Linked DNA regions of Homo sapiens: all the other regions are linked to region 1. Evidence: fine-mapped expression QTL. A gene starts in region 1. Each other region holds a variant in brackets. All regions are shown on one strand. Distances are between the middles of the regions.

Region 1 (4,104 bases):
AATGTACCAACCCAGGACAAAAAGCAGTTGGGGTCACCGTACTCTGCGCTCCCCCTACTCATATCGGGGCCAGAAACTGACATGGAATGAACATCATCCAGTGCAACACAGGAGCTTCCCAGCGTCCCAAGCACTAGAACACCCTCCCCTCCCAGGTGTGACAGCCAAACCTCTCCAGATATTGTAGGAGTGGGGGCAAGTCCCCCAGGGAGGGAGAACCACGGAGTTAAGCCCCCTCCTCAAGAAAACCTTCCAGCTCGCAGTACCCCGAATCCCTGTGCCTCTCCATCCTGTCTCGCTGGACTGAACCTCACTCATTCTCCCATGAATTAAGAAACCAGGGGAAAGAGACGTTGCCAAGTCTCTCCCCGCGCACCCTGGCCCAGTGGCCTCCAGCTGCCAGGCCAGCACCTCCCTGCCTGGGTACAGAGGGCACAGGGAGCTCACGTTGACTTGATGGTGATGCAACGCTCCTGCTCGTCCTTCCGGGTATCAGTGAAGCGTGTCTCCCCGGCCCGGGCCGAGGCGATGATGCCCGCCTTGCACACCAGGGAGTCTGTCAGCGTGGACTTGCCATGGTCCACGTGGGCGATGACAGACATGTTGCGGATGTTGGCCTTCTTGTCCATGATGGCGCGGATCTGGTCTACCGTGAAGTTCACCTGGGCAAGACAAGGAGGCTCAGACCAGCTCGTGATTTCCAGGAACACAGCATGGCACGGAGCGTTCAGTCCAAACGAACCAGCATGCCCAAGGCCAGGAGGGGGTTGGTGCTGGGGTGCCCCAAGCCCACCGAATCTTGCCAGCCTAACACCCCTTAAGAGCCACCCCGCAATCTCCAAGGAACCACCGTTAATAGGTGTCATTCATGATTGACAACCCAGAAATAAAAGTGCTCAGGAATAAAACTGAGTGTCAACAGATTTCCTTGATACCAGGTACAAATACTAAAGTCTCATTTGGGGCCAAACACGTAAGGGATGAATCCTCTCCTAAAGCCCCCTCCACGTTGTCACCGGGCCACCCAAACTTCCCCGAGCAAGAAGCTTCATCATAAAATGCAAGGTCACCCCTTGGCAAACGGGATCAGACAAGGCCACCCACCCCAGGAAATAACGGGGAGCCGGAACGGCCCTAACTGCCACAAGCCTACACCTCGTGTCTCAATAAGAGTCTTTGTACATCTGGGAGTCATAGGAAGGACAAGTGCCTAAGGTCGACGATTAACAGCATCAGGAGAAGGTATTTGGAAGGAAAAGGGGAGCCTTTCAGGTGTCGCTTTGCTCGTTCTGCCATTCCCTGCCGCCCCTAGTCCCCCGGCAGAAAATCGATCTCAAACTCGCGGCCCGCGGGTTACATAAGGCGCCTCCCTGTCTCCCCGCTTCCACCGCGGTGCCCGCCATTACTACGCCTGCCACATCATCATTCCCCACCCCCATCCCCGCTAACAACCCAGCTCCAACCAGGTCTGGGCAAGGTTATGGCGCCCTCGGAAACGGAGAAAGGGCTCGGTGAACAGCGCGGCGCACAGACATGGCGGCGGCCGCTTCCCCAGCCCCGGGTCCTCCGGCCCCGCCGCCGCTACGTCTCCTCCTGGCACGGGGGGCCCCAGCGTCCCAGGCTAGGCAGCGTAGGCCCCGCGGAGGCCCCGCCGCCGCTCCGGGGCACCAGCGAGGCAGGGTTACTCACCATGGTGGCGGATGGCGGTGGATTCTCCCAGGTAGAACCGAAAGAAGCGAGTCGCGCCGAGGATGGCGGCGACGACGGCGGAAGAGAACGCTGACGTCAACACTCAGCTTTTTATAGGCGGACGCCGGTTGGGCGGGTCATGTGACTGCGCTGCGAAGGCGGGGCGAAGGGACGCCGCGCAAGCGCACGGAGGCGTGTCCCCCCGCCCGTTAACCCATTCGGCGCCGGCGCGGCGCTCTAGAATAGAAGCTGGGCATCTCGGGGGCGGTGGTCGCCCTCGGTGTGCAGTGTTCAGGTGCACAAAGTAAAGAGCGCCGTTTTAGCTGAGAACGAGAACCATAGCAACGATATTAGCTTACAAGTTGTCCAGTACTTCTATTAAAACCAATTTACAAGGTGAATAGAGTCTGTGGATTATACCCAAGTCAATTTCCCTGTTTGGACATTGTTACGTAAGACGATACCCCTGGGAGAAGCCGAGGGAAAAAGGACACTCGCGACCACTATACTGTTTTTGCAACTCCTTACCTGTAATTATTTCTAAATAAAAACTTTATAAGAAGCAGGCATCGGAATCACTGATCCCACAAATGCATACTGAGCATCTATACACCAGGCATTGTTAGGGGTTTTGTAGATATAGCAGTGGACCAAACACCTTGCTAGCTTGACCACACTGCGTGTTCTTCTACCAGCTACTAGGATTTCTCTGTGCCTCAATTTCACCTGCTCGGAGGTGATCAATACCACCCTATTGTTTGGGGGAGAGTGAAACGAACTAAAGACATCTAAAAGAATTAGGACCGTGCCTGATACCCAACGCTCAATAAACGCTATCTATTTTAATTAGCTAAGATTGCTATTAATAAAACAGTTATTTATTTCAGGACTGGTTTGCCATGTCCCAGGCACCCGGCTAAGCGGTTTACTGGCACAATTTCATTTTCTATTTCATTTCCTCTCCAGGGGGAGGCGCAGGAAGACTGTTTAGCATTTGTGTCCTAATCTGACCCTAAGAAACAGTTGAATGTATTTCATATCTCATGAATTGGCATTCAATTGTGTAACTCTATCCCTTATGAAAAGCCCAACCCGCTGTTTAGCACATAGTAGGTACTCAGCATTTCTTGCATGAATGATGTTCTCACAGTGCAAATGAACCCCCTGCGGTACATCTTTCCTTAAACTCACTTTGTGAAACAGGAGAGCCACTGCAGTGCTTTTCCTGGGCTGGGAGAGGGGGAGGTGTGGATCCACAAAAAGCAATGCAAATTCCAGCCTGGACTCTAAAATAAACCTGTACACTCCTCCCCCTCACGAATGCTTCGGGCACTTTGCTTTACAAAGCGCTGTCTCAACCTTGGGTTTCATTTAACGGATGATTGCTCTTCCTATCACCATTTAACCCAGTGGAAAACTGAAAAGTATCTTCCGAAAGGATTGAGGCTCTGAAAGGCAGAGGGCGCGGCAGGGAGCAGATGGGAGCGCCCGGGGTCCCTAACCACCTACACCTGTACCTGTGACGCGTTTAGTTAAGTTGCAAGTCAAGCGCATGCGCCATTTGGGGCATGAGTTTTTAGCAGAGGGGTAGTCAGTTTCGCATTATTAATAATAAAATTCTTCAAAATTTTTAAATGCACTGAGCACCTGCTACGTGTTGCGTTTCCTATTGGGGGCTTCGCAGCCGTTTTTTCCGTGCAAAGTGGGAGCATTTCAGAGATGTAATGGAAAGGTTTTCATTAAAAGAGGTGTCAGGCGAGAGGCGGAGGTTGCAGTTAGCCGAGATCGCGCCACTGCTCTCCAGCCTGGCGACAGAGCGAGATTCCGTCTCAAAAAAATTTTTAAAAATTTTAAAAATTAAAGAGGGGTTAGGCTGCTTGCGGTGGATCACGCCTGTAATCCCAGCACTTTGGGAGGCCGAGGCAGGCAAATCACCTGAAGTCAGGAGTTCGAGACCAGCCTACCCAATATGGAGAAACCCCGTCTTTACTAAAAATAAAAAAATTAGCCCGGCGTGGTAGTGAACGCCTGAAATCCCAGCTACTTTGGAGGCTGAGGCAGGAGAACCGCTTGAACCCGAGAGGCAGAGGTTGCAGTGAGCCGAGATCACGGCACTGCATGCACTCCAGCCTGTGCGACTGAGAGTAAGACTCTGTCTCAAAAAAAAAAAAAAAAAAAAAGGAGGGGGGGCTGTTCACAGGTATCCCGGAACTTAATAAAAGAGGGGTTGAATTTCTTCTCAAGTGCATGGGTTGCTTATTGAAAAATTCTAACATCATGTAATTTAAAGAACTAGGGGGAGAGCTTAAGGGAAAAAGGGGAATTTTCAACCCCATAACTGCAGGGATGGAGCCAGGTGTTGGCAGGGAAGGATCTCTCCCACTGTCATCCCCACATCCATGAAGAGCAGAATCC
Region 2 (4,104 bases), 35 kb after region 1:
TGCTTTTCGTGCCCGGGCCGGAGGGCCTGGCTGAGCACCTCACCCCAGAACCGGCTCTGCCTGGCAGGGCCCCCGTGGTCACCTGATCTTGCACCTGGCCCCAAAGGTGCATCTGGTTCAGTGGTGCCCTTGCCTTGGTCCCGTGGCCTTGGATGCTGGGCAGCCCACGAAACCATCTCCCCCTTGGGGAACTTCATGCTTCAGTGGCCCAACAAGAAGGAGCAGCAGAGTGATGTAGGGAAACTGAGTCGCTCCTTAGGAGGAGAAGGTTTGGAGAAAAGTGAGGTGGCGGGGGGTGCGGTTTTTAAATGGGGTGCTCAGCGAAGGCTTTCCTTCTGGTGACATTTGTACAAAGACAAATATAGGGCCATGAGGCTGGTCGGGGGAGGAAGGTTCCAGAAGAGGGAATGGCAGGTGCGGAGGCCCTGATGCAGCATGGCTGGTGGGGCCCAAGCAGGAGGCCAGGGTGGTGGCCGTGTGTGCGCCGGGGTGTGTGTGGCCCTGAGCAGGGGTACTGAGGGTCAGGGGTCTCCTGCGGAGCCATCCCAGGGGGCGGGCTCTGGCTGCTGAGACCGGCAGAGCTGGGGGCAGTCGTCTGCACCGGGCGGGATTTGAAAACAGAGCTGACAGGACTGGCTGAGGGAGTGGATGTTTGCAGGACAGCAGAGACGGGGGCTTCATGGATGCCACCTGGGTTTCTGGCCCCAAACAGCTGACCCCGAGGGCAGAAGGGCAGGTTTGAGGGAGACCCCACAGCCCCTTCCCCAGCATAGGGGGGCCGGGTGTTTGGGGGGAACCGTCAGCGGCCCGGGGCCAGTGGCACAGCAGTGAGAGCACAGGGCACCTCCCAGGCCCCCAGCAGAGAAGCACAGCCCGGTCTCCCCCAGAGGGAGGAGCCCTCCCAGGGCAGGGACCCCAGAGTCTTGTTCTTCAATGACTGGGCCCTGTCTGCCCCAGGCATGGGCTGGCAACAATCCCTGGCCAGCTGGGTGGCTCCCTTGCTGCCTGCTGGGGACCCACCCTTCTCCCCTACCTCCTTCTGAGACACTGAGGGGTGGGGTGTCTGTGTTTTCACCTCCGACCCAGCCTGGAAGCTCAAGGCCCAGCTCAGGTGTAGGCTCCCGTGCAGCCTCCCTGCCCCTGAACCATTGCTCCCCTGGCACTCAGGGCAGACCTGGGCGCGTCTGCAGGTGGCCTGTGTGCCCCCCTCCCAATTAGGCGGCCTTCCTCAAGGGCCCAGCCGGGACTCCACAGCCCATCACCTCTGCAGAGACTGGCTGTGCCCTGAGCATATAAACGGGAACCGGCTGTGGCAGCCCCCTCTTCCTGAGGGCCAGCCACAGACCCGGCACCGGTCCCCGAAGAAACAGGTCAACATGGGCGGGACGTGCAGGCTGAGGCCACAGAGGCCCTGGCAGGGCTGGGAGCCGAGCCCAGGGAGTCTGGCTTTTTTCTTTTTTTTTTTTTTGAAATGGAGTCTCGCTGTCGCCCGGGCTGGAGTGCAGCGGCAGGATCTCAGCTCACTGCAAGCTCCGCCTCCCAGGTTCACGCCATTCTCCTGCCTCAGCCTCCCGAGTAGCTGGGACCACAGGCGCCTGCCACCACGCCCGGCTAATTTTTTGTATTTTTAGTAGAGACGGGGTTTCACCATGTTAGCCAGGATGGTCTCTATCTCCTGACCTCATGATCCGACTGCCTCGGCCTCCCAAAGTGCTGGGATTACAGGCGTGAGCCACTGCACCCGGCTTCTCGTGGGTTTTAATTGAGAAAGTTCCAAGACAGTGCTGGTAGTTGAGGTGCGATCCCATGGCTCCGGTTCTTGTAAAGGCCCTGTCGTGGGTGCAGGCCACACCACTGTGTGCACTGCCGTCCTGGGAGCACCTGGGAGCACAGACATAGCCTGCGAAGCTGATGAGCTCCAGCCTTTACCAGGGGCAGTTCGCCATCCCTGTTCTAAAGGGCTTGCCTGTCATCTCGTTGTCTCGTCTCCCGGCCACTGCAAGGCTGCCATTGTGGCCAGATTCTCGCTCCCCCACGCTCTTCCGATATTTTTTACACTT[A/G]TAAACAAATAGGTGTTTACTCAGATGCCTTCTCTCCATTTTCATTACACAAGTGATAGCAGGACGTGCACGCTGCTCAGCGTTTTTGCTTTGTATCTAAATATATTTTTTAATGTAGACACAGTCTTGCTATGTTGCCCAGGCTGGTCTCGAACTTCTGAGCCCAAGCAGTCCTCTCACCTCAGCCTCCTGAGTAGCGGGAATGACAGCTGCACACCAGCACACCTGGCTCAGGCTTATTTAAAAACTTTTTTTAGAGACAAGGTCTCACTGTGTTGCCTGGGCTGGGCTCCAACTCCTGTGCTACAGCGATCCTCCCACCTTGGCCTCCTGAAGGGTTGGGGTTACAGGCATGAGCCGCTGTGCCCAGCCTGCAAGTTTCTTTGAACGCATGTTTCCATGTATTGAGGGAAAATACTTTGGAGTGGGATTCCTGATTCCTGGGTGATAGGGTAGGTCTGTGCTTACCTTTATAAGGGTAGTTTCCCAGAGTGATGGTACTGTCTTATAACCCCACCAGCAGAGAGTTCTGATTGCTCTACACCTTTGCCATCTCTTAGAGTTGCCAGTCCTTTCATTTTAGCCATGCTAGTGGGTGTGTAGAGAGGTATTTTATTTTATTTTACCTCATTTTATATTATTGATACAGAGCCTCACTCTGTCACCCAGGCTGGAGTGCAGTTACACAATCTCGGCTCACTGCAACCTCCGCCTTCTGGGTTTAAGCGATTCTCCTCAGCCTCCCGAGTAGCTGGGATTAGAGGCGTGTGTCACCATGCCTGGCTAATTTTTGTATTTTTAGTAGAGATGGGGTTACCATATTGTCCAGGCTGGTCTTGAACTCCTGACCTCAAGTGATCCACCTGCCTCGCCTCCACAGTGCTGGGATTCCAGGCATGAGCCACCGCACCTGGCCTGGGTGTGTAGAGAGGATTTAAACCGGTCTTGGATTTCTACACAAATCGCAGGGGCCTGAAATACTGGCTGATATTTTGTGGAGGATTTTACATCTGTGTTCATGAGGGGTATTCATCGGGAATTTTCCTTCCTTGATGCTGAGTTGTGAGGTTTTGGTATCAGAGTTATGCTGGCCTTGTAAAATAAGAAGTATGCTTTCCTTCTCTGTTTTTTGAAAGAGTTTATGTACGGTTTATGTGGTTTCTTTCCAAAATGTTTTATAGAATTCACCGATATGGACCTGCATTTTCTTTTTCTTTTTTTTTTTTTTTTTTTTTGAGATGGGGTCTGATTCTGTTGCCCAGGCTGGAGTGCAGTGGTACGATCATGGCTCACTGCAGCCTCCACTTCCTGGGTTCAAGCAATCCTCCTGCCTCAGCCTCCAAAGTAGCTGGGACTACAGGTGGTGTGCACCTCCACACCTGGCTAATTTAAAAATTTTTTGTAGAGACAAGGTCTCACTTTGTTGCCCAGGCTGGCCTCAAACTCCTGGGCTCAAGCAATCCACCCACCTCAGCCCCCAAAGTGCTGGGATTACAGGCATGAGCCACCATGCCCAATCTGGACCTGCAGTTTTCAGAAAAGGTTTTAATTATGGATCCAACTTCCTTAACAGGTAAAGAGCTTTTCAAACTTCCTGTATCTTTTGGTACCCGTTTTGGTAATTTGCATCTTTGGGAGGATTTGTCCATGTCACTAAGTTGTCAGATTCATTGGCATAAAGTTTCACCTTTTATTCCCCTATTGAACCGAAAAGCTGTAGGGTCTGTACTATTGTTCTTTCATTTCTGATATTGGTAGTTTGTGTTCTCACTGTCTTTTTGTTGTTCAGCTAGAGTTTTGTTTTTTTTGTTGTTGTTGTTGTTTTTGGTGGTTTTTTTTGAGACAGAGTCTCGCTCTGTAGCCCAGGCTGGAGTGCAGTGGCACGATCTTGGCTCACTGCAAGCTTCGCCTCCCTGCAAGCTCCGCCTCCCAGGTTCGCGCCATTCTCCTGCCTCAGCCTCCCTAGTAGCTGGGACTGCAGGCGCCTGCCACTACACCCAGCTAATTTTTTGTATTTTTAGTAGAGATGGGGTTTCACCGTGTT
Region 3 (4,104 bases), 28 kb after region 1:
CACCAGGGTCAGCTGGGCTCTGCTGTTTGGTTTTTATTTCGCTGGAGAGGCCCGGCCAGGCGATGAGGGCCAGGTCCTGCCAAGCCTCATTTGTCGCTTTGACCCAGGTCCTGCAACAGCCCCTGTGGCTGCTATCTTCCCCTTGGACCGGTCCCCCAGGGACTCAGGGCAACGTGTGGAGGTGTGTTTGGTGTGGAGGTGTGTTTGGTGTGGAGGTGTGGGGGGTGTGGAGGTGTGTGGGGTGTGGAGGTGTGTGGGGTGTGGAGGTGTGTGGGGTGTGGAGGTGTGTGGGGTGTGGAGGTGTGTGGGGTGTGGAGGTGTGTGGGGTGTGGAGGTGTGTGGGGTGTGGAGGTGTGTGGGGTGTGGAGGTGTGTGGGGTGTGGAGGTGTGTGGGGTGTGGAGGTGTGTTTGGTGTGGAGCTGTGGGGTGTGGAGGTGTGGGGGGTGTGGAGGTGTGTGGGGTGTGGAGGTGTGTGGGGTGTGGAGGTGTGTGGGGTGTGGAGGTGTGTGGGGTGTGGAGGTGTGTGGGGTGTGGAGGTGTGTGGGGTGTGGAGGTGTGTGGGGTGTGGAGGTGTGTGGGGTGTGGAGGTGTGTGGGGTGTGGAGGTGTGTGGGGTGTGGAGGTGTGTTTGGTTGTCGTGAGCTGTGGGTATTTAGCACCACACAGAGCCCAGGATGGCCCCAGTGTCCACAGGGCCAAGGAGGAGAAACCCTGCCTGGGATGATCAGCAGATGTTTCGGAGGCCCCCACAGGCCCAGCCCTGTGTTGACATCCAGAGGGTAGTGTGGCAGCAAGAACCGCCCCTGGCTTCAGAGCCAGGCCTGGGTTCGAATCTTGGCGCTGCCACCTCTGAGCCGACAGTTCCTCATTTGTGACAGAGCTCACACACCAGCCTAGCAGGGGTGTTTTAAGGATCAGAGTTAAATATATAATCACATGACCGGCTTGGTTCCCGGCAGGTGATTAGTACTAAGTAAACTGTGGCTACCGTTGGCGAGACCGAAGGGAAAACATATCTGTGGCTGACATGGGTTGAGCGCCCGCCCAGCCAGTGCTTTATGTCATTATCCTCCCGACGTAGAGACTGAGGGTCAGAGAGGCATTTGGTGTTTGCCGGTAAGGCACTGGCAGAGGCTGTTTACAAGTAAAGCACAATTGTCAGTTCCTGCCCTGGGGATGCTTTCAGGCTGAAGACAGGGAAAGAGAACCTAAAATAGAAGGGGGGGCCTAGTCAGAGGCGCTTTTGCTGCGTTGGCGATGCTGGGGAAAGTTTGATGAGGAGGAGGGAGGGGGCAGGGCTTTGCTGGGAGGGGGCACCGTAGGGGCAGGGCACTCCACCAGCCCCAGCCAAGGCTGGCGCTTCCTGGCGAGTGGGTGTCTTTCACGGCCCCCACATCGGGGCCTGGCCTCCATGGAGTCCCCTGCCTCGCAGCTGTGTCCTCTGAGTGTGTGTGTGCTTGCTCCTCCTCAGAACATGGTGATGAGTTTTCGAGTCTCCGACCTTCAGATGCTCCTGGGTTTCGTGGGCCGGAGTAAGAGTGGACTGAAGCACGAGCTCGTCACCAGGGCCCTCCAGCTGGTGCAGTTTGACTGTAGCCCTGAGCTGTTCAAGAAGATCAAGGAGCTGTACGAGACCCGCTACGCCAAGAAGAACTCGGAGCCTGCCCCACAGCCGCACCGGCCCCTGGACCCCCTGACCATGCACTCCACCTACGACCGGGCCGGCGCTGTGCCCAGGACTCCGCTGGCAGGCCCCAATATTGACTACCCCGTGCTCTACGGAAAGTACTTAAACGGACTGGGACGGTTGCCCGCCAAGACCCTCAAGCCAGAAGTCCGCCTGGTGAAGCTGCCGTTCTTTAATATGCTGGATGAGCTGCTGAAGCCCACCGAATTAGGTGAGTGGTCACCCTGGGGAGGCTGCGACTGGAGGCTTCACCTAGGCCCCGTCGCCCAGCCCAGCCCAGCCACACAGCCGACTTCGAGTGATGTTCTCTGTGGCGCAGCCAGGGCGGGGAGCCACAGTGGCCAGGGGTGTCCTTCCTCGGAAGCAAAGGGACCATCTTTGATATTGGTCACCCCTTGCTGTGTTACAAGTTACCCCGAAATGGAGCCACTGGAAGCAGGGGGCGTCTGTTAGCTCTCAGGAACCTGTGAGCTGTGTTGCGGGGCATTGGGGCTTGGGGGCTCTCATGAGGCT[C/CA]AGTCAGGCTGGAGCCACCTCATCTGGAGGCTCGACCAGGGCTGGAGCAGGCACATCCTTGTGTGGTGGCTGGCAGGCCTCAGCTCCTCGCCAGCTCTTGGCCACAGTCCCCAGGTCCTCATGGTGCGGACTCCTGCACGGATTGCCTGGGCGTCCTCAGCCTGGTGGCTCCCTCACCCTAGGGTAGCGAGTGTGCACCTCCAAGCTGGGAGCTGGAGCCCTTTTTATAACCCAACCTCGGACACGCCTCGCCATCTCCCCCACAGAGTCCGTTGCTCACACAGACTCTGTGGCGCATGCAGGGACCACACCAGGCTGTGACTGCCAGGGCCAGGGGTGACCAGGGCCACCTGGGAGCCTGGTTTCCCTGCTTATTCCCCTTGGAAAGGGGGCTGGCCAGTGGCATCCTTCCCCCGGGCTCTGGTTCCTCGCTGGCAGCCTGCAGGAGTGTCCTTGGTCAGTGGGCTCAGGTCACTGCCAGGCTGTGTGCACCGGGCGTGCTGGGGGTTCAGGGCGATCCCAGGCGGAGGAGAGGTGCTGGGCTCCACGCTTCTCTCTCTCGTGTCTTTGTCTGCAAGCACTGACTGAGCAGGAACTGTGTGTCAGGACCTCATAGCCCACAGCAGTGTGGACAGGCCCCTGGTGCCTCCCCAGCAGCCGTGGCCATTCAGGCTGCAGGTGGGCATTGAGCCCAGTCTCTGCCTCAGCCATAGCCCTGAGCTCAGGGCCAGGGAGGCCTCCGCAGCCCCAGCCCCCAGGGCAGAGAGAGTGTGCAGCCTCTGGGACTCCCAGATAGGGAGCGGAACGTCCTGGGCCTTTGCGGACCTGTGCCTTGAGGCGCTCAGATTTCACCAAGTCCTCTGTGTGCCTGGAGGTCTCTCCGTCTCTTCTTCCTGCCTCCCCTCCCCTGCCCCCACTCTTTCCTTCGCACAGTAAACATCGGAGCGCCTGCTGGGTGGGTGCGTGATGGGCACCAGGCGTGGGCACGCAGCAGGGAACAGGACCAAGGCCACGAGGTTCAGAACCCTGTGCATGCCCCCTCCCACCCTGCTGACCCAGCAACCTGCCTGGCCCCTGCTGTGGCCTGAGGGCCCTTCTCTGGCACGCTTCAGTCCATTGGGTGCCAGCTGGCCCCCGCTCCCCTGCCCAGGGAGGCAGCGTTGATGGGGGTAGGGGGAAGGGGAACTGGCTGCTTTTCCCCTCCCATCTGCAGCCCTGGGACTTAGTGAGGTTAGGCTGGAGGGGCTGTGCTTCCAGGTGAGGATGGAGGAAGTGGAGGAGGGAGGAAGGTGCTGTCGGTGGTTCCTGCGGCAGCCGAGGCTCCTCCCTCCAGCCTGAGGCTCCGCCTTCCAAGTGAGGCTCCGCCTCCACCTTTTTTCTCTTGCAGGAGGTGTCTAGCAGCAGCCTCCTGGGGAGCAGGTTGGCCCAGTGGCACCTGTCCTGGGGGACTCAGGGTCTTGGCCTGAGTTCCATCGGACTGACTTTCCCAGCCTTTGCTCTCTCATGAGGGAAGCTGTTCCCCCTGCCAGGTTCTTGGGCAGAGCTGGCTGTCTCTGAAGGTTGGGCCTTGGGAAGGACCTGCATCACAGGGAGGCTGGGCTTTCCTGGGAGCGGCAGGGCAGGCTTGGTCCAGGGCGGGGGACGGGGCTGACCAGCTTCCTTCCTGCACGGGGACCAGTAGCTCCGTCCCACAATACATCGCTGTGCCCTGAGCCACCAGGGACCCCGGTCACCTGATCTCCGGGAGAGCCTGCTCCCCTGTCTACACCAGTGTGCCTGTGCTGGCGGCTCAGAACAAAGAGGCCATCCCCACCCTGCCTCTCTCTCCCACTGGCTCTCTCTCCATCTCAGGCCGCCAGGTGAACCTCCTTTCCTGGATTCCGTGCTCTTGGGGGACTCCCTGGG

What was found. PIP is the estimated chance that this variant, and not a neighbour inherited with it, causes the effect.
Region 2: its variant is the best candidate, but not a certain one, in a credible set for the expression of EEF2 in lung (TOPMed, PIP 0.59).
Region 3: its variant is the best candidate, but not a certain one, in a credible set for the expression of EEF2 in tibial nerve (GTEx, PIP 0.51).

What each region holds. Positions count from the first base shown.
Region 1 is chr19:3,983,689-3,987,792 of GRCh38, forward strand. EEF2 (eukaryotic translation elongation factor 2) reads right to left here and starts at 1,775. Exons shown (of 15, transcript NM_001961.4): 1 at 1,690-1,775; 2 at 448-662. The coding sequence starts at 1,692. RefSeq lists enhancers at 341-1,192, 486-705, 1,961-2,010, 4,027-4,104 and a silencer at 1,571-1,680.
Region 2 is chr19:4,018,469-4,022,572 of GRCh38, forward strand. All of the region lies in intron 2 of PIAS4 (protein inhibitor of activated STAT 4), which reads left to right. Among named protein-coding and RNA genes, the nearest start is that of PIAS4, 13 kb to the left of the region's middle. The variant A/G (reference allele first, on the strand shown) is at 2,061.
Region 3 is chr19:4,011,453-4,015,556 of GRCh38, forward strand. It overlaps PIAS4 (protein inhibitor of activated STAT 4), which reads left to right. Exons shown (of 11, transcript NM_015897.4): 2 at 1,471-1,897. Among named protein-coding and RNA genes, the nearest start is that of PIAS4, 5.8 kb to the left of the region's middle. The variant C/CA (reference allele first, on the strand shown) is at 2,200.